Homo sapiens: one gene and its partners. The protein of the gene in region 3 purifies or fractionates together with the protein of the main gene of each other region. This does not show direct contact. Each region holds a gene or a part of one and is shown on either strand. Other genes may lie near its edges. The genes, in order: MAN2A2, TGFB1, C1orf54, CHSY3, CEMIP2, CTSF and SCARB1.

Region 1 (3,500 bases), on a different chromosome or scaffold from region 3:
ACTGTGTTAGCCAGGGTGGTCTCGATCTCCTGACTTCGTGATCCACTCGCCTCGGCCTCCCAAAGTGCTGGGATTACAGGCGTGAGCCACCGCGCCCAGCCGAAGGTGCCCCTTTTATGTCAGAATTAATTCCCAGGCTCCCCTACTTCTGTTAAGTCTAGAATGGCAGGATGTACAGTTCCTGCTTCTGAGGCCAGAGCCCCTGCCTCACCCCCAACTGCAGCACTGTGGCCACAATTTGCAGGAGGCTCTAGAACTGATGGGAGTGGGTTTTTGGGGTTCCCACAGGCCCAGTTTGGCACTCTTTCTGACTATTTTGATGCCCTGTACAAGAGGACAGGGGTGGAGCCAGGGGCCCGGCCTCCAGGGTTTCCTGTGCTGAGCGGGGATTTCTTCTCCTATGCGGACCGGGAGGATCATTACTGGACAGGCTATTACACTTCCCGGCCCTTCTACAAGAGCTTAGACCGAGTCCTGGAAGCCCACCTGCGGTGAGACCCTGTCCCCGCTTCCAGGCTGGAGGGGGAGAGTCAGCCTTTGGGGTTTAAGGAGGGGCTGGATTGGCTCAGAAGGGAATAGATAGGCCCAGAGGCCAGGGCAGGTAGAGGAGGGGTGGGAAGGAAGGAGGCTGCACTGGCAGAGTGTGGGTGGGCCCTGGCTAGTGGTGCAGGCTGGCAGCTAACTTCTCTCTCTGGGCAGGGGGGCAGAGGTTCTGTACAGCCTGGCTGCAGCTCACGCTCGCCGCTCTGGTCTGGCTGGCCGGTACCCACTGTCTGATTTCACCCTCCTGACGGAAGCTCGGCGCACATTGGGGCTCTTCCAGCATCACGATGCCATCACTGGCACGGCCAAGGAGGCTGTGGTGGTGGACTATGGGGTCAGGTGGGAGCCTTCTCTTTTCCCTTGTAAGCTCCCCTGCTCACTGTCCCAAAGAAAGGACATTGGGTGGTCAGGGGGTAGGCCGGCCTAGGGCTTGTCCTGCTGACAAGGCAGACAGCTTCCCTATGGTCATCTTCTCTCCTTCCCTCTCCTGCGCCACCCACAGGCTTCTGCGCTCCCTTGTCAACCTGAAGCAGGTCATCATTCATGCAGCCCACTATCTGGTGCTGGGGGACAAGGAGACCTACCACTTTGACCCTGAGGCGCCCTTCCTCCAAGTGGTGAGCCCCTCCTGGGTCTGCATGGGGACCCTCTGGTGTGTGCAGGTCCCATCCCAAGAGCTGCTGGATGGGGGTGCCGCTTCTCTTTTTCCTTCCCCATCCGGATGAGTTCTGTGCCCAGTGCAGCCGCTGGTCCACACCTGGGACAGGTGGGGTGGGAGGAGGCTGAGCCCATGATGGTTCTTCCCTTCCGGCTCACTGAATTCCAGGATGACACTCGCTTAAGTCACGACGCCCTCCCAGAGCGCACGGTGATCCAGCTGGATTCCTCGCCCAGGTAACCTGGACTACGCCATGTGCAGAGAGGCAGAGCCATTCCCTGGCTCTCAGGCCCCTCTGCCCCAGCATGTGCTGAACCAGTGCAGGGCGCTTGCCCTGGTCGGAAGCAGCAGCCTCCTGGGTCAGCCCACCTTCTACGCACAGGTTTGTGGTCCTATTCAACCCACTGGAACAGGAGCGATTCAGCATGGTGTCCCTGCTGGTCAACTCTCCCCGCGTGCGTGTCCTTTCGGAGGAGGGTCAGCCCCTGGCCGTGCAGATCAGCGCACACTGGAGCTCTGCCACCGAGGCGGTCCCTGACGTCTACCAGGTGAGGTGTGGGCTTGTCAGGTGGGCCTGGCCCTCTGCCCGTCGTGGGCCCCTCCCCGCCCGGCGACGCCAGCCTCCCACCCTCCTGCTTGTGGCCCTGCTACTCTCCAGGCTGAGGACAAGTGTCCTGGGGAGGGGGTTGTCCAGAAGACAGGCACTCTTGGGATTTGAGCGTGTCCTTGAAAAGAAGGGGAAGGTTGGTATGGTAATAGTAATGGTAAAAATAGCAGTTATAATGCCCCATCATTCAGTCATTCAATGTTTATCGAAAGCTTAATGTGTTGTTACCGCTTCATACTTTTTCAAATATCACTTGAGAATCATAAAGTCTGATGAGGAAGAAAGGGCAAATCAGATCACCTCCACTTTGGAGGAGGGGCAGAGGCCCAGCGGGTGCAGGGGCTTGCTCAAGCCCTCTGTTAGTAAGCGGATGCCTCAGCACCCCTGTGGCGAAAGCCGTGCCCCCACTTCCTCACCCCTCCTGTGCCCACAGGTGTCTGTGCCTGTCCGCCTGCCAGCCCTGGGCCTGGGCGTGCTGCAGCTACAGCTGGGCCTGGATGGGCACCGCACGCTGCCCTCCTCTGTGCGCATCTACCTGCACGGCCGGCAGCTGTCCGTCAGCAGGCACGAAGCGTTTCCTCTCCGTGTCATTGACTCTGGCACCAGCGACTTCGCCCTCAGCAACCGCTACATGCAGGTCTGGTTCTCAGGCCTTACTGGGCTCCTCAAGGTAAAAGGCCAGGGTGGTGGGGAAGGGCCAGGGGCCAGAGTAGGGCGTGTGTGGTGGTGGCACTGTGCAGAGCGGCCTCCCGGCCCTGTGAGCATTCTGCCACCTGACCCACAGTGGACCGGGGCCTGGGCCATCTCAGCTCCAGCCTGACAGCATGGGGAAGCAGGGCACGGCTCCTTGGGGAAGCTATTCCGTGTCCTCCCAGGAGGCAGGCCTGACATGCTGGTGTGGGGCCAGGGGTCAGGGCTGTGTTTTTTGGCAGAGCATCCGAAGGGTGGATGAGGAGCACGAGCAGCAGGTGGACATGCAGGTCCTTGTCTATGGCACCCGTACGTCCAAAGACAAGAGTGGAGCCTACCTCTTCCTGCCCGATGGCGAGGCCAAGGTATCCTAAAGATGCCTTGAACAACCTGGCAGGGAGGGCAGGAGGGGGCACAGGCCTTCCCACAGGTTTATTGCTGCCTGCCAGGGGCCTTGTCTTTCCTGTTCAGCCCAGGGGTGTCTGGGAATAGGTGCTCTCTTGCCCAGCCCTGGGCTGGCACCTTCCTGCTTTGCCCTCTGTGCTGTAGTTTCAACAGCAATCTGCTCTTTCTCTAGCCCTACGTCCCCAAGGAGCCCCCCGTGCTGCGTGTCACTGAAGGCCCTTTCTTCTCAGAGGTGGTTGCGTACTATGAGCACATTCACCAGGCGGTCCGGCTTTACAATCTGCCAGGTGAGCCCTGCATATGAGGAAGGGTCTGGAAGGAGGTGTGGGCTCCACAACTGTGGCGTATTCTTCCTTCTGCTGCTTCTCTGTTCATACCTCTGTTCCGTATCATTTGAGACAGGGATGCTCCATTCTCTTGGAGAAAAAGTCATCCAGAAATGCCCTGGGGATTTCTTGGGAGGTTGGACAGAGCCTCTCCCCAGCTCGGCTCTGATCCCCCAGCCCAGCCTCTTAGCTGTGCTTCAGCCTCACACCTGTCCATGCCCCCACTTTGTTCCTGTACCCAGGGGTGGAGGGGCTGTCTCTGGACATATCA
Region 2 (3,500 bases), on a different chromosome or scaffold from region 3:
AACTCATTTGATCTGTCCAGGAGATGATTGTCTCTGTCTGGTTTCTGGCAGGGCCCATGGTGCCCCTATCTCTCTCCCTCACCTCCCTCTCATTTATGCTTTTATTCAATAATTGCCCACAGGTTCCTGCTGTGTGCCTGGCCATGTGCTGGGTGGTGTGGGGGACATAGTGATAACCAAGACAGCCCTCAGTTCTGCCCTCATGGGGCCCACAGTCACTTCTGGACACCTAAGAGATCTTGTCAAGGCCCCACCAGGCAGGAATGACCTAGAATGATCAAGAATGGGATGGGGAGGCACCAGCAGGGAGGACAAGGCTGGGACAGGGAGGCATGCAGGATGGGGGAACGCCCTAAGTGCTGTTGGGAGCCCAGAGAAGGCACCTGGACCCATCTGGGGAGTCTAGGAGGGCTTGCTGGGTGAGGGTGATTGTGTGGAGACTCACAGGATAAATAGTAGTTTGGCCACATGAAAAAAAAGGGATTAGGGGGCCTGGCATGGTGGCTCACGCCTGTAATCCCAGCACTTTGAGAGGCCGAGGTGGGTGGATCACCTGAGATCGGGAGTTCGAGACCAGCCTGACCAACATGGAGAAACCCCGTCTCTACTAAAAATACATAATTAGCTCGGCGTGGTGATGCATGCCTGTAATCCCAGCTACTCGGGAGGCTGAGGCAGGAGAATTGCTTGAACCCAGGAGGTGGAGGTTTCAGTGAGCCAAGATCGTGCCATTGCACTCCAGCCTGGGCAACAACAGTGAAACTCCGTCTCAAAAAAAAAAAAGAAAAGAAAAAGAAAAAATAGGGATTAGGGAGCAGGTGGGCACTGGGAGGAGTGTCCTGGGCTGTTCGACAAAGGCCTAGAAGGAGCTCATCTGTCTTGGTCAATGCTGAGTCCCAAGCACACAGCACAGGCTTCGGCACATTGTAGGAGCCTAGAAAACATCATTCACTCATTCATTCAAGAGATTGATGCTGGCTGGGTGCAGTGGCTCATGCCTGTAATCCCAGCACTTCGGGAGGCCAGGGCAGGAGGATTGCTTGAGCCCAGCCTGGGCAACATAGTGAGACCTCTGTCTCTACAGAGAATTTAAAAAGTAGCCGTGTAGGCCGGATGCAGTGGCTCAAGCCTGTAATCCCAGCACTTTGGGATGCCAAGGCAGGCGGATCACCTGAGGTCAGGAGTTTGAGACCAGCCTGGCCAGCATGGTGAAACCCCATCTCTACTAAAAATACAAAAAATTAGCCGGGTGTGGTGGCGCATGCCTGTTATCCCAGCTACTTGGGAGGCTGAGGCAGGAGAATCGTTTGAACCTGGGAGGTGGAGGTTGCAGTGAGCTGATATCACGCCACTGAACTCCAGCCTGGGCAACAGAGCCAGACTCCATCTCAAAAAAAAAAAAAAAATTAGCCATGCGTGGTAGCACGCGCCTGTGGTCCCAGCTACTCGGGAGGCTGAGATGGGAGGATTGCTTGGGCCTTGGAGATTGAGGCTGCGAGACCTTGTCTCAAAAAAAAAAAAAAAAAAAAAAAGAGAGAGCTGCAGTGAGAGGGCAGAGTGGGGTGGGTGGGGGAGGCAGGAAGGAAGCCCCTGGGGTTTGCTCCTTCCTTCCTCTTCCTCCAGGGGCTGGGTGAGCTGCACTCTCAGACTGGCTTCCCTCTCGCCACTCCTACAGGGGAAATTGAGGGCTTTCGCCTTAGCGCCCACTGCTCCTGTGACAGCAGGGATAACACACTGCAAGTGGACATCAACGGTGAGGCCTGCTTCCCCGGCCATGCCCAGTTGTGACGTGTGTGCGTGTGTGTGTTCCCATCTGCCCCACGCCCCACTTATCTATCCCTCTGAGAGTGTGTGTGTATGTCCCCTATCCCCTGACTCCCACACCAAAGCAGGGTTCACTACCGGCCGCCGAGGTGACCTGGCCACCATTCATGGCATGAACCGGCCTTTCCTGCTTCTCATGGCCACCCCGCTGGAGAGGGCCCAGCATCTGCAAAGCTCCCGGCACCGCCGAGCCCTGGACACCAACTATTGCTTCAGGTGAGCCTTGTAGCCTGGATGGAGGCCTTCCAGGCTGGGGGCATGACTGCCATCTGCTGACCAGGTGCTCCAGGTTGGACACCTGGCTGCTGCTGTGCTTGGGCTGAGCATCTGTCTCCTTTAGCTTGGAGGGCTCAGGGGATGAGGTCTGGGTGTAAGAACCAGGAGTCTTGTGCCAGGTGCGGTGGCTCACGCCTGTAATCCCAACACTTTGGGAGGCTGAGGCAGGTGGATCACCTGAAGTGAGGAGTTTGAGACCTGTCTGGCCAACATGGTGAAACCCGTCTCTACTAAAAATCCAAAAATTAGCCAGGCGTGGTGGGCGCCTATAATCCCAGCCACAAAAAACAAAAAAAGAACTGGGAGTCTTGTAATGTTGGGATCAGGTTCCTTTTTTTTTTTTTTTTTTTTTTTTTGAGACAGAGTCTCGCTCTGTCACCTGGGCTGGAGTGCAGTGGCGCTATCTTGATTCACTGCAAGCTCCACCTCCCGGGTTCACACGATTCTCCTGTCTCAGCCTCCCGAGTAGCTAGGACTACAGGCACGTGCCACCACGCCCAGCTAATTTTTTTGTATTTTTAGTAGAGATGGGGTTTCACTGTGTTAGCCAGGATGGTCTCCATCTCCTGACCTCGTGATACACCCACCTCAGCCTCCCAAAGTGCTGGGATTACAGGCGTGAGCCAACGCGCCCGGCCTAATTTTTTGTATCTTTAGTAGAGACTGGGTTTCACCATGTTAGCCAGGATGGTCTTGATCTCCTGACCTCGTGATCCGCCTGCCTCAGCCTCCCGAAGTGCTGGGATTACAGGTGTGAGCCACCACGCCCAGCCTTGCTTTCTTGCTGGAGTGTTGGAATCACAGAATGTTAGAAAGTTGAACCCTGTGATTGTTGGAATTCAAAGTTGGAAGGTCACCATCTTGAATCCCTAAATTGTTGGCAGGTTGAGGTTCTAGAATGCTGGGATTCTAGAATGCTAGAATTTGGTGTTAATTACTGAAATGGAAAATGTCGGACTCAAGGAAAGCTGAAACATTGGAATCCTAGAATTTGGGGATTCAAAATGGGAAGATGGCCCATGTGGAATTCCTGCACCACTGGCCAATTGTGGATACCAGTGTTGGCAGATTGGAGTCCTTGAATATTGGGCTCACAGTGGTAGAATTCTGTTTTGAAATATTCACATCCACAAATGTTGGAGTTGGAGAAAGCAGAATATTGGTATCTCAGCATGTTGGAACTCAGTGTTGGAATGTTAGAATATTAGAATGCTGGGATTTTATTAATAGAAAGTGGCAGCAGGCTGGGCGCGGTGGCTCACGCCTATAATTCCAGCACTTTGGGAGGCTGAGGTGGGCGGATCCCTGAGGTCTGGAGTTCAAGACCAGCCTGGCCAACATGGTGAAACCCCATCTCTATTAAAAATACAAAAATTAGCCAGGTGTGGTGGCTGGCACCT
Region 3 (2,813 bases):
TCCATTCCATTCATTAATTTCTCTTCCTCCCACTCACTACAGGCACAGTCACTGGCCTTCTGAGCTTGTGTGTACTGGCTCTGTTGAGCTCATTTACTTTCATATCTGTGACTTTGCACTTAGAACTCTAGCCCTGATCTAGTTCAGTGACCTTTAGGACACCCTCATAGGGCTGTCACCATAAACTCAGCTTGGCCATTACCAAATTAATAACTTCTGTCCTAAACCACTCTGGCCTCCCATAGTTCCCACTTTGGTCAACCATTTTCCCAGACATCCATGTTTAAAACCCATGAGTTATTTTAACTCACTCCTCATTTATACTTCATATAAAATTATCACTCAAGCAAGGTATTTTCTTCATAATATTTATTTTTCTCCTCTCCATTCATAATGCCAGAGTACAGATTGTTTCTGGAACAACGCAAATCTCATGAGTTGCTTTCCACTAAATTATTTACATCCTGCATACAACCTGAAGAGTGGTTTTTCTTTTTCTTTTTTTGAGATGGAGTTTCACTCTTGTTTCCCAGGCTGGAGTGCAATAGCGCGATTTCGGCTCACTGCAACCTCCGCCTCCCAGGTTCAAGCGATTCTCCTGCCTCAGCCTCCCAGGTAGCTGGGATTACAGGCATGTGCCACCACACCCAGCTAATTCTGTATTTTTACTATAGACAGGGTTTCTCCATGTTGGTCAGGCTGGTCTCGAACTCCCGACTTCAGGTGATCAGCTCACTTCAGCCTCCCAAAGTGCTGAGATTACAGTCGTGAGCCACCACACCTGGCCGGTTTTTCTAAAATATCACTTTTCATCGTGTTTTTACCATAATGAAGAACTTACTAGGCTCCTTGTTGATTATGAGTCCAGACTTCAGCCTGACACCTGAGACTCTCTGAAATTTGCCCCTATGTTGCCACATGTGAAATTACTAAGCAAGTATTAGGAGCCTTGTAAATTTTATATTTTTCTTAATTCCCACTGTTCCCTTCCATATACCCTCTCCTTCAATCATACCCTATTTGCTAAACATATTATGCTTGTTCTATTCCCCCCTCCTGTGCAGCTCTTTCACTCTTTTTTTTTTTTTTTTTTTTTTTTTAGTATAGAGTCTCACTCTGTCGCCCAGGCTGGAGTAGAGTGGCGTGATCTCGGCTCACTGCAACCTCTGCCTCCCGGGTTCAAGTGATTCTCATGCCTCAGCTTCCCAAGTAGCTGGGATTACAGGCACGCACCACCACGCCTGGCTAACTTTTGTATTTTTAGTAGAGATGGGGTTTCCACCATGTTGGCCATTGAACTAGCCTTGAACTGCTGACCTCAAGTGATCCGACCACCTTGGCCTCCCCAAAGTGCTGGGATTACAGGCATAAGCCGCCATACCTGGCCTCTTTCACTCTTGGAATAACTATTCTTCCTCCTAATTGCTTCTGTCCTTCCATAACTACCCACCAATCAAAAGCTCATCTATTCTTCAGGGTGTATCTCAAGCACAAATGCCTCTTGAAAGCTTTTCAGACAACTCTAGCCTGTACTAATCTCTCTTCTTACATTGGCTAAAGCACTGCCAGTATCTTCTGCTTTCAAATTTATATATAATTTAACATCATAACATACCTTTTCATTTTGTTCTAAGTGTTTCGTAAACTTGAATTTTATAAATCCTTGAGGACAGTAACATAGATTTCTTTTTTATCAGCATCAGTTACCTTAGCAGCCTTAGGCATAGATTACATACCTATTGAATACTACTGAACTGAAATTTAACTGTACCATATCTTCCCAGTGTTCTGTAAACAGGGTTAGTATTAAATCTTAGTGAAACATGGCCAAGTTGAGATGAATACCTGCAATGAAGTACTAATTATTTGGTTCTCCCATCCACCAAAGCCTGGTATTCCAGCCCTCTATGTATTCCACGTCACTAGGGATGTCCTGTCTCCCCCCAGCCCCCAATCCCCAATCAACTCACAGGTTCCGTTGTTACTGGTTTCACAGTTACAGGCTTCGGATGGTCTGCACGTGCTGTTTCAAGACTAATGGTAGTCTCTATTGCTTCTGTTATGTCCTTATCCAACCTGTTCTACCCTCAGTAGGATTTGGGAAACACAGAGTTATCAGTTTTTCCATCCAACATCTTCATAGATTCTCTACTTAAAGTTCTCCCCTTCACCACCTCCACCCAGCCCAAAGACTTAAGCTCAGGGATTCCCCCCTACCCTATGCTTGCATAGATTTGTACCCATCTCATTCAAAAGTCCCTTGATGCCCCTCCTCAGTGTCTTAGCAAACTTACTGAGGACAATTTATAAAGTTCTGGCTTTTTTCTCCTCCCCAGATAGGTTAACAAATCTGTTTTGGGCCTACTACTTAGTTTCTCCTCATCAAACTCATTTTTATTCTTGTTAATCAGATACATTTCAACATTGCCCAGTTTCTTTTCTTTTCTTTTTTCTTTTTTTTTTGTAGATGAAGTCTGGATCTGTCACCCAGGCTGGAGTGCAGTGGAACGATCTTGGCTCACTGCGTCCTCCATCTCCCGGATTCAAGTGATTCTCCTACCTCAGCCTTCTGAGTAGCTGGGATTATAGGCATATGCTACCATGTCCAACTAATGTTTTTGTATTTTTAGTAGAGACGGGGTTTCACCATTTTGGCCAGGCTGGTCTCAAACTCTTGACCTCAAATGATCCACTCGCCTTGGCCTCCCAAAGTGCTGGGATTATAGGCATGAGCCACTGCGCCCGGCCAGTTTCTTTTTAATTGTTACTTATCCTAACCCTTTTAGATGTAGAGTTCACTCACCAGCCTGTCC
Region 4 (4,025 bases), on a different chromosome or scaffold from region 3:
AAGGCACAATGATTTTGGCCAATACAGCTTAACTTTTTTTGAGATTCTGTTGCTGGACAATTTTCCTCCCTCATTGGAGAGGTAAAATTTTCCTGTCTTTGCCTTAGAAAATAAAACGGTTCATAGGCAAGAATAAAAATCATATCCTCCATTTTATTTTTTGATTAAGTTCACTTATTTTGTGGGGGTAAGAATTTCTTTCGTTTGGATCTTCAGGGTATTGGCCCTGTGAATGTGTGCCCATTTCTCCACTATTTGCCAGTCCCACTGAGCCAATCTTCTACCAAGACTGAAAATAGACCATAGTTCTCATTTCTTGAACAGATATCATCAGGAGAGCCGAGGGGGAGACCATTAGGCAGCCCCACATTTTCCAACTCAACAGGTGGAGGACATGGGATTTTTACGTTCTTTGGGGATTGAACCCCCACACACCACCAACTCCCTTAGCCTTTCAGGATAAGTATTTCCAATCCCTCAGAGATTTTCTTAGGAGAGACCCTAACGACAATGGTGCTTCTGTGAAGGACTGAGGAGAGCTGGTGGACGATGCAGGTAGGAGGGAAGTTAGGCTGGGAGGAGAGGTGCTGGGATGGGACGTTTGGTTTCCTGACAAGTGACCGACTAGAGAGAGAAGGCGCGGAGTGGCAGCGGTAAGAACAACGTGGAAAGGACGGAAAACGCGAAGAGTGGCGCCCTGGCGGACCTGGGGCGGGGCAGAGTGGTAAGGGTCACGCCAGGACGTACCCGGCTGTGGGCCGGGGGAGGAGAGCACGGTGGGACAGCAACGAACTTGCTGGGGGCTCCCGGACCCGAGCTCCGCCGATGAGGTCAGCGGAGCCTAGGCGCCGGGAGGAGGCCAGTAGAGCCCCCAGACACGAGTGTCGGGAGGCCAGCGGAGGGGCGGGACGGGACGGGAAATGGGACGAAGAGCAAGAGCTGGGGGAGGAGGGAAGAGGGGGCGTCGGCGCTGCAAGCCGGAGGCGGCCCGACAGGGATCGTTTCCTTCCGGAGAGGAGGCCGGCTCTGGACTGAGGCGCGGACGGGGGGCGTCCAAGGGCGGGTGACGGGGAAATACCGCGGCCCGCGCTTCTCTCCGGCTGGCAGCGGTGCCGCCTGCGGCTCCTCCTCCGGGCCAGCTCGGAGCCCGGCGGCGGGGGGAGCGGGAGGCGGGAGTGAGGGCGGGGGCTCGGGAAGGAGGGAGGAGGGAGGGCCCAGGCGCGCCACTGACAGGGTGGCAGCCTAGGAGCGGACGCGTTGCCGCCGCCGCTGCTCCTCCTCCTCCTCCTGCAGCTCCTCCAGCTGCCGCTGCTGCCGCCGCTGCCGCCACCGCCGCCGCCGGGAGAAGTTTCACTCCCGACCCTTGCTCGGAGCCCCGGCCCAGAGCTGAGCGGGAGCCCGGCAGGCAGCTGCAGCCCGCGGCAGTCGAGGCGTCCGCGGCGCTTCGACCTCCAGCCGGTGTCGGCGCCTAGGCGGCCGGCTGCGGCCGCGGCTGGGGGCGCAAAGGCGGAGGAGGGGCGGGTGTGAGCCGGGGAAACCGCGTGCCGCGCCGCGACAGCCCAGCGAGCGTCCGCGCCCGGGACAGCCGCGATGGCTGTGCGCTCTCGCCGCCCGTGGATGAGCGTGGCATTAGGGCTGGTGCTGGGCTTCACCGCCGCGTCCTGGCTCATCGCCCCCAGGGTGGCGGAGCTGAGCGAGAGGAAGAGACGTGGCTCCAGCCTCTGCTCCTACTACGGTCGCTCTGCTGCTGGCCCCCGCGCCGGCGCTCAGCAGCCGCTCCCCCAGCCCCAGTCCCGACCACGGCAGGAGCAGTCGCCGCCCCCCGCGCGCCAGGATCTCCAGGGGCCACCGCTGCCCGAGGCAGCACCCGGGATCACCAGTTTTCGAAGCAGCCCCTGGCAGCAGCCACCTCCGCTGCAGCAGCGGCGGCGAGGACGCGAGCCTGAGGGCGCGACGGGGCTTCCCGGTGCTCCAGCGGCCGAGGGGGAGCCCGAGGAGGAGGACGGGGGCGCGGCTGGGCAGCGGAGAGACGGCCGGCCGGGGAGTAGCCACAACGGCAGCGGGGACGGGGGCGCTGCCGCCCCGAGCGCCCGACCCCGGGACTTCCTGTACGTGGGGGTGATGACCGCGCAGAAGTACCTGGGCAGCCGCGCGCTGGCCGCGCAGCGGACCTGGGCGCGTTTCATCCCGGGCCGCGTGGAGTTCTTTTCCAGCCAGCAGCCCCCCAACGCCGGCCAGCCCCCGCCACCCCTGCCTGTCATCGCGCTACCGGGTGTGGACGACTCCTATCCTCCCCAGAAAAAGTCCTTCATGATGATCAAGTACATGCACGACCACTACCTGGACAAGTATGAGTGGTTCATGCGCGCCGACGACGATGTCTACATCAAAGGTGACCTCCCTGCGCCGGCTTTCCAGCCTGCCAGTCTCCCCGACTCCTTTCTCTGTAACCGGTCCTAGCCCCTGCCCAGCCCCTCCGCTGCTTCTCTGCCAGCACGTGCTTCGGGCTCCCACAGGCCCTGGCCCGCCCTCCCCACCCCTTGCATCCGCCCACAATTCGTAGCCCGTTCCTCGTCTTCTGCAATCTGGACCCTCCTCACACCTGCCTGGCTTTATTCGCCTTCCTCACTTGCTGTTTTCGGTGCCGCCTCGCGCTTGTCCCTTAGTCTTTACCTCGTCGGAGAGGTTAGAAAAGGAACCTTAGAGCTAAACCAAAGGCCATTCCCACTCTGCCCTCCTCTGAAAGCCCCTGCTGATGGTAGTTTCCCCAATCGGTCCAGAGGGGCGTGGTCTTCAGGAAGGGAAGACGGAGGATGCTAGCTACAACTAGTCTGGAGATCCAGTGTTCTGGCTTTGGATCTTGCTCTTTTGTTTAAACTGGATCTAGCGCACTTTTGGAACTGCTCAGATTGAGGAATCGTCTTCGCTGTCCCGGACCCTTTCCTATGTGTTCCCTTCCCTTTGGCTCAACTCTCCACATACTGGGAGTCCTTGGCCATCCCCACCGTGCCAGCGCGCTGCTCCTTCCAGCCGCTACAGTTCAGCACCAAGCCGTCCCCCATCCCCCCGCCACACCTCAATAAAACCCTGAGAGGATGGGCATGTTGTAAGGAATTGGTGGTGGGGGAAAAGAGGAAAGCACCCGCTAATAAGCCAGACCCCTGGGAACAGCAGACTGTACTAGCACACACTAGTATTGGTTCCTTTCCAGTGCATTTTGTTGGCCGCGGTGATAAGCAGAGGCTGGAAGTCCTTCCCAGAACCACAGGCAGCCACAGCAAGAAAAAACTTTTTTTGTCAGTTTAAAAGAGGCGCGGTCTTTTTCCCGGAATGTGGGCGGCTCTGGACAGAGAATTTCTAAACTCAGCGGATCAAAGTTCTTTAGGTCAGAGAAGTGAATCTTTCCAGTCCAGCCAGTTGCTGAGATGGGGAGCAACGCAAGGGAAGCAGCAGGGTTGTACCGAATGAGGTTTCTCTGTGTTTTCCACATTTCCTTGCTTCCCGGTCAAAGGGGGGCAGCCCTTCCTTATTTTATGCCTTTCTACTCGTAGCCTCATTGCTTCCTCCTGATTCGGATAGTACTTTTCACATAATGCAAGAAAAACGAACAAAAAGCCAAACAATAAACCCAAACTGTTGCATTTTGGCACAAGGAATTAGTGTAATCATAATAACTAGAGATTTCTTGGCTTTGGATTGGAAGGAGGGAAGTCACTCTAGAGCAGGTTGGAATAGAAAATACTGATAATTGGATATAAAAATAAAGAATGGTCTCATTACATTTTTAACAGTGGTATTTAGGATTGACTCAAAGAAGAAAGCTTCCTCTACTTTAAGTTCCTTGCCTTGGATATCTCAAAATTACAAAGGTTTCCTGGCAGAAGTTTGCCACATTTTGCAGGGAATTTATAAAATGCATTAACAGCACCTACTTCTTTCATTTGTTTTAATACTTTGAAAGATTGTCCTTCAGAACATTAAAATGACATATTATTTCAATTTCTATTAAGAATGAAATGTGTTTT
Region 5 (3,500 bases), on a different chromosome or scaffold from region 3:
AATAATGAGGATTCCTTAACTTTTCTACCTCCCTCTTCCCATACAACATCTAGCTGAAATTCTCCATAGTTTTATAACAAGCACTGTACCCAGCTATAAAGAAGGAAATCCAGTCTTTTGAGATCTGGAGCCTACTTCAATGATTATATAATTTCTCTTAATTGTTTTTAATTATTTCCCAGGAGAGCATGGTTCATTAGAACCATCACCAAAAATTCCAGTCTGTTTCCTTCCAGTAAAATGCACTTAATGAGAAAATGTGTAGTCTGTACAAAGCACTGAAAAGTAGCTCAGCCAACCCCACCTTCCCAGCTACCCACTTGAAGAGCAGTGAGTATATTATCAAAGTTATGTAACAGCAATAACCACAGTCAAGCTGACCCTGAAATATTTCAGCATACCAGATCTTTCCACTGATGATCTGCACTTTACACTGCCAAAATGTGAAACTAAAGAATGTTGGTTCAAGGAACCATATCAGCAATGCCCTGTTTTAGATGGAATATGAAAACACCAATCAAAGCCATAGACTTCAGCTCTGATTTCCCACTGGTCTAGCATCCCTTTACTGCAGAAGAGTTGGGAAGTATGAATCAGCACAGTGAACTTGGTTATTATGAATCAGCACAGAGAACTTGGTTATTCTGCTGGGAAAAGGAGAGAGGAAGTCATACCGCATGCAATGGAAATCAATGTTATAAGTTCATAATGTGGTCTACTTGTTTGGTCCATAAGGATATTAATGTGCATGTCTCTCTCATTTGAGGTTTATTTTCTTAGAAGTACTAGCACTACCTCTCCCAGAACCTTAAAATTTTAAAAATCCCTTGAAAGCACCCAAGAAAACTAAATAATAAAGTATTTGTAAGTCTTATAAGTAGTAAAATGCCTCTGAACTGTTACAGCCACTTAAGGAAGCATTTAACTTGACAAAAATCTGTTGTAGACAAATATGGTACCCAGTCCAGGCTGTTAGAGTCTTCTCTCTTCACAGCCCCGAGTCCTTTGATTTTAGACAGATGGATGGTATTCTTTTATGAGGCAATTCTTTGTTGGTATTCCAATAAGGCTGACTTGCAACCATCTTCTTCAAAACTTTTCAAAATATTGATATATCATTAACTTGAAAAGAAAATACCATTTAAGAAATTAAAATCTCCCTGCATAATATTTAACTATGAAGTAATGACTGATTTTTAGACAAAGGTGTCAGAACTTATATATCCTAAAGGATGCTTCCCTTCCAGGATATATATTGTTACTCAAAAATATTTGAAACTTTTCCTTTGGAACTGCTTCCCAAGCCCATTTCAAGCCACAAACACAAATATTATTATTTTTAGTCACTTACTTAAACAAAAAAATCTAATATAGTTCACTATACGTATGACTAAAAAAAAAAAAACTTGCGGCCGGGCATGGTGGCTCACACCTGTAATCCCAGCACTTTGGGAGGCCAAGACAGGCAGATCACCTGAGGTCAGGAGTTCGAGACCAGCCTGGCCAACATGGTGAAACCCTGTCTCTACTAAAAATACAAAAATTAGCCAGATGTGGTGGCACTTGCCTGTAGTCCCAGCTACTCAGGAGGCTGAGGCATGAGAATCATTTGAACCCAGGGGGCGGAGGTTACAGTGAGCCAAGAACACACCACTGCACTCCAGCCAGGACAACAGAGCAAGACTGCCTCAAAAAAAGAAAAAAAGAAAAAAAAAATTGCAGCAGTCCAAAAATCATACCTACCATAAGAATTTAGTGAAGGCCCTCAAAGCATTTCCAAAAGAGGTACTCCAAGACCTCCCTGAGTGCTGCAACAAAGTGGCACAATGGACAGGAAGAGCAACCATTTAATCATTTCCAACAGATTATTGAACAATTGCTCTCATTCATAAGAAGTGACACCTCGTATTACCTAACTACATATTAGTTAGCTAGGGCCAACTTAAGATAAATTTTTTTTTAAGTATTCTACTATTTCCTCCTCTTTTGTCTTCTAGAATATGTTCTATGTGCATATACACACACTTACCATCTGGAGCATATTTTGAGGATATTCCTAAAATGATTGCAAGTGCAATAAAAAATGAGAAACTAGTAATAGCAAAACAAATGAAAGTATTTTTGTGTCTCTTTTGCTTTTGACTTTCTCTCTGGGCTTGCTGTTCTTCAGGTGAGAATGCGAAGGTTGCCCGGTCTTCTCGTCTGATGGAGGTAAATTTGGCTGAAGCTTGACTCTTTGGAGGAGGAGGGGGACGCAATGGGACAACCTTCCCTGGAACATAGCCAGATGGGTGACGACTATTTCCATTCTGAGGTTGGAGGAAAGCAGGGGAGTGTCCCCTGGAATCAGTGGCATACATGATACACTGTTACTGTGAAAAGAAAAAAAAATTAAGCTTCAGTATGTGTAAATTCTTTTTTAATTTCTTTTATTTATTTATTTATGAGATGGAGTTTCACTCTTGTTGCCCACACTGGAGTGCAATGGCATGATCTCGGCTCACCGCCACCTCTGCCTCCCAGGTTCAAGTGATTCTCCTGCCTCAGCCTCCCGAGTAGCTGGGATTAGAGGCATGCACCACCACGCCCAGCTAATTTTTTTTTTTTTTTTTAAGTAGAGACAATGTTTCTCCATGTAGGTTAGGCTGGTCTCGAACTCCCAACCTCAGGTGATCCACCCACCTCAGCCTCCCAAAGTGCTGGGATTACAGGTGTGAGCCACCGCAACTCGCCTTTAATTTCTATTTTTTAGAGACAGGGTCTCACTCTGTTGCCCAGACTGAAGTGCAGTGGCATGATCATAGATCACTACAGTCTCGCACTCCTGGGCTCAAGCAATCCTCCTGCCTGAGCCTCCCGGGTAGCCAGGACTACAGGTACATCCCACGATGATTGGCTAATTTTTAAATTTTTTGTAGAGATGGGATCCTGCTATATTGCCTAGGCTGGTCTCAAACTCCGGAGCTCAAGTGATTCTTCCACCTCAGCCTTGCAAAGTGCTGGGATTACAGGCGTGAGCCCCAGTATCCAGCTGGAATGTATGAATCATAAATGGTTTTTTTAAAGTACTTTTTAAATTGTGTTAAATATACCATAAACTTACATTTTAACTATGTTAAGCGTACAATTCAATGGCATTACGTACATTCACAAAGTTGTGTGACCATCACCACTATCCATTTTCAGAACTTTTTCATCATCCCAAACAAAAACTCTATATCCATTAAGTAACTCTCCATTTTTCCCAGCCCCTGGTAACCATCATAATGACTTCTTGAAAATATCAAGTCAGCTTACATCCCTGATCTAATAAACCATGTTGACAATCACCTTCATTACTTGTGTTCTAATGTCACTCCTTCTCAACCCTGGCTGCATAGTGTAATCACCCGCTAAGGTGAATGCTCAGGGCACCACGGCTAAACAATTCAATCAGGATTGCTGTCCCTGGGATCTAAGTATTTGCAGCTTTTAAATGCTCCCCAAGTGATTCTCATGAA
Region 6 (2,643 bases), on a different chromosome or scaffold from region 3:
ATAATGGGGGGGAGACATGAGCATGAGAGTTACACAGAACTGGGTCCAGGTCTTAATGCTGACCCAGCCAGGCGTGGTGGCTCATGCCTGTAATTCCAACACTTTGGGAGGCCAACTTGGGAAGATCACTTAAGGCCAGAAGTTCAGGACCAGGTTGGGCAACATAGCAAGACCCCATCTCTACAAAAAATTAAAGACATTAGCCAGGCATGGTGGCTTGCATCTGTAGTCTCAGCTACTTGGGGGGCTGAGGCAGGAGGATCGCTTGAGCCCAGGAGGTTGAGGCTGTAGTGAGGCATGTTTGTGCCACTGTACTCCAGCCTGGGTGAAAGACTGCTGGGATGAGCTCTTGGTGAGGAGTCAGAAGTTGGAGTTGAGTTCTGTCTCTGCCACTTTTCTTGCTGGCTACTGGTCCCTCCTCCCCATCTCTCCCAGCCTCAGATGTGTCATTTCTAGAATGAAGACATTCTTCAGAGGGGATGGCCTGTGGCCTGGGGTGGACGAGGAATGTGAAACCTCGCGTAGAGGGCTTAGTTCATTTCTGGCTGTGAATGGCAAATGGGAGCCTGCCCTTCTCTACTCACCCCCACCGTTCCCCAGGAGGGCTGGAGACAGAGGATGACTACAGCTACCAGGGTCACATGCAGTCCTGCAACTTCTCAGCAGAGAAGGCCAAGGTCTACATCAATGACTCCGTGGAGCTGAGCCAGAACGAGCAGAGTGAGTGAGGGGCAGGGTGAGGTGAGGTCAGGTGGGGCCGGGGCCTGGGTGCCTACTGATGCCACCCCTTCCCATCTCAGAGCTGGCAGCCTGGCTGGCCAAGAGAGGCCCAATCTCCGTGGCCATCAATGCCTTTGGCATGCAGGTGAGGCCCTAGCCCCACTGCCCCTGCCCCATCTCTTGTTGACCTCCCCGACCTCTTCTTGGAGTCGATCCCCTACTCCTTCTCCACCTCCAGTTTTACCGCCACGGGATCTCCCGCCCTCTCCGGCCCCTCTGCAGCCCTTGGCTCATTGACCATGCGGTGTTGCTTGTGGGCTACGGCAACCGTGAGTTCCGCTGCCTGTCCTGCATCCAGCCAGGCCACAGGCAGGGGTGGGATCACAGCATCTCAGGTCCTCTAGAGGGGAAATAGGGGGAATGCCTAGGAACCCTGTCCTTACCCACTGCCTGGGCCATGACCAGCTGGGCATCATCTGTCCTCTCTATGGCAGGGAAGCTGAGCTGTGGGAGGGTAAATATTGATGGCCTAATAACCTGCAATAGGCGGGTGGGTGCGTGCTTCCTCCCTGCCCCAGGGCTTCTCCCTGAGGCTGGTAGGTGGGCCCCTCGCTTTCTGCTCTTTTCCTAGTCCCTGTCACACAGTAGGCCCAGTGCAAGTATTTGAAGGGTGCAAAGTGATTAAGGCTCTGCCTGGAGAATTAAGGACCCTGATCCTTGCGCTCTGCACTGCACCCCAGGCTCTGACGTTCCCTTTTGGGCCATCAAGAACAGCTGGGGCACTGACTGGGGTGAGAAGGTGAGTCTTGCTGGCTTGGCCCCTGGCCCTCCAGCCGCCATCCTACCCTGGTGCCCTCACCAGCTCCCCCTCTCCCCCAGGGTTACTACTACTTGCATCGTGGGTCCGGGGCCTGTGGCGTGAACACCATGGCCAGCTCGGCGGTGGTGGACTGAAGAGGGGCCCCCAGCTCGGGACCTGGTGCTGATCAGAGTGGCTGCTGCCCCAGCCTGACATGTGTCCAGGCCCCTCCCCGGGAGGTACAGCTGGCAGAGGGAAAGGCACTGGGTACCTCAGGGTGAGCAGAGGGCACTGGGCTGGGGCACAGCCCCTGCTTCCCTGCACCCCATTCCCACCCTGAAGTTCTGCACCTGCACCTTTGTTGAATTGTGGTAGCTTAGGAGGATGTCGGGGTGAAGGGTGGTATCTTGGCAGTTGAAGCTGGGGCAAGAACTCTGGGCTTGGGTAATGAGCAGGAAGAAAATTTTCTGATCTTAAGCCCAGCTCTGTTCTGCCCCCGCTTTCCTCTGTTTGATACTATAAATTTTCTGGTTCCCTTGGATTTAGGGATAGTGTCCCTCTCCATGTCCAGGAAACTTGTAACCACCCTTTTCTAACAGCAATAAAGAGGTGTCCTTGTCCCGAGTGTGGTATAAATGCTCAGTCCCCGGGGGTGAGGAGAGATGGCAGGGACTCCTGGCGGGTCAAGGTGGGATAGCTGGTCCTGCCCAGGAGCCTGAGGGGCCAGCTTCTGCTTCAGGAACTAAAAGGAGATGGGGAGAGACCCAGAGAGGGATCTTTATTCAGAAGCACTTGGCTGGCTTTTCTCTTAGGCCCTTGCTCCGAGGGACGGATGGGATCAGCCACAGGGTGCATCCTCTCTCCATCTTGCATAGAGAACCTCAGTGGTTGGGGTCAAAGGTCGCTCTCCCCATAGAGGGCACTGGAGAAGGCCACGTAGTCCAGGGCTCCAGCCGGGGCCCCGGATCCCTTGTAGGGCACCATACGGCGGATGCAGTACTCGGCCTGCTTGGCAGGGAGCTCGCGCCGCAGCTCCTCGGGGGTGATGTAGTTCTGGGGAGAAGAGGCGTTGAGGACCCACAGGTCCCGTGCCCTGCCCTAGCCCACCAGCCCCTCCACCGCCT
Region 7 (3,500 bases), on a different chromosome or scaffold from region 3:
AGAGACGATGGCCGTGTTGGGTGGGGGAGAGCAGAACGAGGCCGGGTGGGCGGCGACACCATGTCCTGCAGTGGGCAGGCGGCGGGAGGGACAGACTTGGCGAAGGGGCCGAGCTCAGCTTTGGCTGTGGGGCCGGAGGTGTGCACAGACGTCCAGGGCCCCTGGTTCCCAGGCAGGCATTGCAGGCGAGTAGAAGGGAAACGTCCCATGCAGCGGGGCGGGGCGTCTGACCCACTGGCTTCCCCCACAGGGAGTTCAGGCACAAAAGCAACATCACCTTCAACAACAACGACACCGTGTCCTTCCTCGAGTACCGCACCTTCCAGTTCCAGCCCTCCAAGTCCCACGGCTCGGAGAGCGACTACATCGTCATGCCCAACATCCTGGTCTTGGTGAGGCTGCCCTGTGGCCCACGCCGCCTCGCACCCTGACCTCGTCCCCTGTCTCTCCTCCCGCCTGCCCCTTGTGCAGAGAGCAGTCCCTGAGGTGGTCGGAGCGTGGGGACTCACGCCTGGTGGGTGGCTTTCGGCCCTGTGCTGTCTCCACCACCCCCAGTGGGTTCTGAGTTTCCCAGGTGGGTCCACCTGTCTTGGTTTGGAAGTCCTGGCCAAAGTACTTTTTTTTCCCTTTTCAATTTACATTTCTGAGATCTCCAAAAGGGGCTGTCTTGTTGAGGGCTGAGCCACAGGCCCGCCTCTGGGACTGGGGCTGGAGTTCACTTAGCCTGAGTCCAGTGGGGTGCAAGGGGGAGAAGGGGTTCTCGGGAGCACATGTGGCCTTGGCACTGGAGGAGCAGAGGGTGGTTCTGGTGTCCCAGATGCCCCACGTGGCCACTCCAGGGGCCTCCTGCACCCCAGCATTTCCCTTCATGGGCTCTTTGCTGTGAGGCCCAGCTGGGGCCAAGGGAGGATGGGCCAGCCACGTCCAGCCTCTGACACTAGTGTCCCTTCGCCTTGCAGGGTGCGGCGGTGATGATGGAGAATAAGCCCATGACCCTGAAGCTCATCATGACCTTGGCATTCACCACCCTCGGCGAACGTGCCTTCATGAACCGCACTGTGGGTGAGATCATGTGGGGCTACAAGGACCCCCTTGTGAATCTCATCAACAAGTACTTTCCAGGCATGTTCCCCTTCAAGGACAAGTTCGGATTATTTGCTGAGGTACGTGTGGCCTGGTGAGAAGCCAAAGATTCAGGCCTGTGTCCTGTCTTCCCCTCACACAGCCTGGACACTGGTCACCAGCTTGCTTTGTAGCTGGCTGGGGATCTAGTGGCTGTGGGTTGTAAGTGACTGAGAACCTGACTCAAACCGGCTTGAGTGAAATGGGGAATGTTGGGGCTCATAGAACTGAAAATGCTAGGGTTGGATTCAGGTACAGCTTGATCCAGGCTCAAATGATGTGACTGGGCCTTAGCTTAGCAAATTGGAGGCTTTGCTGGAGGAAGGGGGCATGGCTGCTGGGGAGTAATATCACAAGCTGACTCTTAATCTTGACTCTTGGCAACCTGGTAGGGTCACTGACTGGGCTTCGGAGCCAACATCTCGTCCATGGAGGGTCTGACCCTGACCTTGGCTCCCTCACCGCAGGTTTCACTGAGTCCTTGGGACTGCTCCAGCCTCAGCCATCTCTTTGGTCTCTGCTGATCAGGGTAGAGTGCTGGGGGGGATATCGTGGTGCTGCGTGTGATAGATACTCAGTACGTTTTTGTCAAGGGTGACGGGCTCCTGTCGTGTGGGTAAATGAGCAAGTTTGGGCTAAGTGGCATGATGCTGTAAAGGCATCTTGTAAATCCTGAAGTGCTTTGCAAATGAAAGTTATTACAAAGTCCCTAGTTTAGTATAATCTACGTTTGACTGCATATAATGAAAACCTCACAAGAAAAGTCTAGCGGTAGGCTGTTCAGTGTTGGTGTGGTGGCTTCATGGTCTTAAGTGATCTGGAAGCCTTCTACTACTGTGCTCTGCCATCCTTGGCATGTGGTTTTCATCCTCAAGATAACCTCATTGTCCAAGTTGGCTGCTAGAGTGTCAGCAATCACATCACATTCCAGGCAGCACAGCAAGAAGGAAAAAATGGTGGGGCTTTGGGGAGCAGATGGAGGAACTGGGGGTAAAACAGCGTGTTCCAGTTTCCTCCCTCTTAGGGAGGAAGAAAACCAATGTCCACTTCCTTTCTATTGGCCAGAACTGAGTCACATGGCCACACCTAGCTCCAGGGGAAGCTGGAAAGGTAGCCTTTTAGCTGGGTGTGCTGATGCTCTGAGTATGGTTTGGGTTTTGTATGAAAGAGTAAGGAGAGATTGGGCTTTGGGTAGTAACTGGCAGTTTCTGATGCTCTCCGTCCATTATAATGATCATTTAAGTATCCTATTGGGTGAGCATTTATTAATAATAACAATAATAATGAAAATAAAGACTATCATTTTGAGCTCTTACTGTGTCCGGTGCACTGTACCTGGCCGTTTTTGCACATGAGTCCCTTTAATGCTCCCCTTTGTAGTGGCTCTGGTTATTCTTGGCTCCACATGGGCACGTGACAGACACACCCGGGATGCTGGGCTGGGGCCTTGTGCTGGGTCCTGCTCTGGAGGTCTGTGATGGGTGCAGTCACTCAGCCGGGCAACCTTGGAGCTCCTCAGTGTGCTCCACCCTGCAAAGCACTTCTAGATATTTCCTTCAGTCACTCATACCACTTTGTGCTTTGCATGTCTTTGGGATTAGAAACCAGCTTCTGGGAAATGCTCTCGGAGCACCAAAGCCTGGGCCCCACTATCAAGAACCTCGATGGGTTAGGACAGGCCAGGTTTTGCTGCTGTGACAAGCAGCCCCGGAATCTCCATGGCTTAGAACAACCAAGACTTATTCCTTTGCTTGCACTCCACGTCCAGTGTGGGTGACTGGGGCACCCGCGCTTGTGGTGGTCACTTGGGGATCCAGGCTGAGGGAGGCTCTGTCTTGACACATACCTCCTTGGCTGCTATAGCAGCGGCAGAGAGCCCGGTGAAAGGCGTGTGCACAGTCCTTAAAGCATCCCCCCAAGTGACATGCCACTTCTCCTTTTTCATTGCTCAGGGAGCTGACCTGGCCATGCTTTATTTTATGCTGGAGTAGGGTGTGGTGGGGGTGATCTGCCATTTACCTGGGAGGAAAGCCAGACTCTCCTGGAGTTAGGAAGGGAGGGTGGAACACTGCAGCCACAGAACCCGGGACCATTCCTCCTAGAAAGCTCCCAAGCCTCCTCTCGGTCCCCAGACACTGGGCATTTGGCAGTGAACCAGATGCTGGGGGCCCTGTCCTTCTGGTGGAGGGGGAGGAGGGCTCAGCCCAGAATGTTCAGACCAGGCCGGCTCAATGGCAGGCCTAAGCCTTACGATGCTGTTCCCTGCTGTGTCTGTAGCTCAACAACTCCGACTCTGGGCTCTTCACGGTGTTCACGGGGGTCCAGAACATCAGCAGGATCCACCTCGTGGACAAGTGGAACGGGCTGAGCAAGGTGAG

Evidence for each region.
Region 1: the proteins of C1orf54 (region 3) and MAN2A2 purify together in Homo sapiens (co-immunoprecipitation; 2 studies listed by BioGRID and IntAct, with this or other methods). This does not show direct contact.
Region 2: the proteins of C1orf54 (region 3) and TGFB1 purify together in Homo sapiens (co-immunoprecipitation; 2 studies listed by BioGRID and IntAct, with this or other methods). This does not show direct contact.
Region 4: the proteins of C1orf54 (region 3) and CHSY3 purify together in Homo sapiens (co-immunoprecipitation; 2 studies listed by BioGRID and IntAct, with this or other methods). This does not show direct contact.
Region 5: the proteins of C1orf54 (region 3) and CEMIP2 purify together in Homo sapiens (co-immunoprecipitation; 2 studies listed by BioGRID and IntAct, with this or other methods). This does not show direct contact.
Region 6: the proteins of C1orf54 (region 3) and CTSF purify together in Homo sapiens (co-immunoprecipitation; 2 studies listed by BioGRID and IntAct, with this or other methods). This does not show direct contact.
Region 7: the proteins of C1orf54 (region 3) and SCARB1 purify together in Homo sapiens (co-immunoprecipitation; 2 studies listed by BioGRID and IntAct, with this or other methods). This does not show direct contact.

The regions. Positions count from the first base shown.
Region 1 is NC_000015.10:90,909,802-90,913,301, forward strand, and holds part of MAN2A2 (alpha-mannosidase 2x), read left to right. Parts: intron 1-288; coding exon 289-491; intron 492-699; coding exon 700-882; intron 883-1,045; coding exon 1,046-1,160; intron 1,161-1,369; coding exon 1,370-1,437; intron 1,438-1,583; coding exon 1,584-1,749; intron 1,750-2,241; coding exon 2,242-2,478; intron 2,479-2,715; coding exon of another isoform or gene 2,716-2,740; coding exon 2,741-2,863; intron 2,864-3,075; coding exon 3,076-3,190; intron 3,191-3,471; coding exon 3,472-3,500.
Region 2 is NC_000019.10:41,340,423-41,343,922, reverse strand, and holds part of TGFB1 (transforming growth factor beta-1 proprotein preproprotein), read left to right. Parts: intron 1-1,675; coding exon 1,676-1,753; intron 1,754-1,889; coding exon of another isoform or gene 1,890-1,892; coding exon 1,893-2,040; intron 2,041-3,500. UniProt on the Homo sapiens protein: Transforming growth factor beta-1 proprotein: Precursor of the Latency-associated peptide (LAP) and Transforming growth factor beta-1 (TGF-beta-1) chains, which constitute the regulatory and active subunit of TGF-beta-1, respectively.
Region 3 is NC_000001.11:150,275,790-150,278,602, reverse strand, and holds part of C1orf54 (uncharacterized protein C1orf54 isoform b precursor), read right to left. Parts: coding exon 2,804-2,813; intron 2,082-2,803; coding exon 1,971-2,081; intron 1-1,970.
Region 4 is NC_000005.10:129,903,240-129,907,264, forward strand, and holds the start of CHSY3 (chondroitin sulfate synthase 3), read left to right. Parts: upstream 1-1,225; 5' UTR 1,226-1,590; coding exon 1,591-2,392; intron 2,393-2,602; exon of another isoform or gene 2,603-2,688; intron 2,689-4,025. UniProt on the Homo sapiens protein: Has both beta-1,3-glucuronic acid and beta-1,4-N-acetylgalactosamine transferase activity. Transfers glucuronic acid (GlcUA) from UDP-GlcUA and N-acetylgalactosamine (GalNAc) from UDP-GalNAc to the non-reducing end of the elongating chondroitin polymer.
Region 5 is NC_000009.12:71,748,014-71,751,513, forward strand, and holds part of CEMIP2 (cell surface hyaluronidase CEMIP2), read right to left. Parts: intron 2,373-3,500; 5' UTR 2,361-2,372; coding exon 2,030-2,360; intron 1-2,029. UniProt on the Homo sapiens protein: Cell surface hyaluronidase that mediates the initial cleavage of extracellular high-molecular-weight hyaluronan into intermediate-size hyaluronan of approximately 10-5 kDa fragments.
Region 6 is NC_000011.10:66,562,964-66,565,606, reverse strand, and holds the end of CTSF (cathepsin F precursor), read left to right. Parts: intron 1-600; coding exon 601-720; intron 721-800; coding exon 801-865; intron 866-958; coding exon 959-1,049; intron 1,050-1,460; coding exon 1,461-1,519; intron 1,520-1,599; coding exon 1,600-1,674; 3' UTR 1,675-2,143; downstream 2,144-2,643. Other genes in the region: ACTN3 (alpha-actinin-3), read right to left, coding at 2,414-2,572. UniProt on the Homo sapiens protein: Thiol protease which is believed to participate in intracellular degradation and turnover of proteins. Has also been implicated in tumor invasion and metastasis.
Region 7 is NC_000012.12:124,811,865-124,815,364, reverse strand, and holds part of SCARB1 (scavenger receptor class B member 1), read left to right. Parts: intron 1-250; coding exon 251-392; intron 393-959; coding exon 960-1,163; intron 1,164-3,399; coding exon 3,400-3,495; intron 3,496-3,500. UniProt on the Homo sapiens protein: Receptor for different ligands such as phospholipids, cholesterol ester, lipoproteins, phosphatidylserine and apoptotic cells. Receptor for HDL, mediating selective uptake of cholesteryl ether and HDL-dependent cholesterol efflux.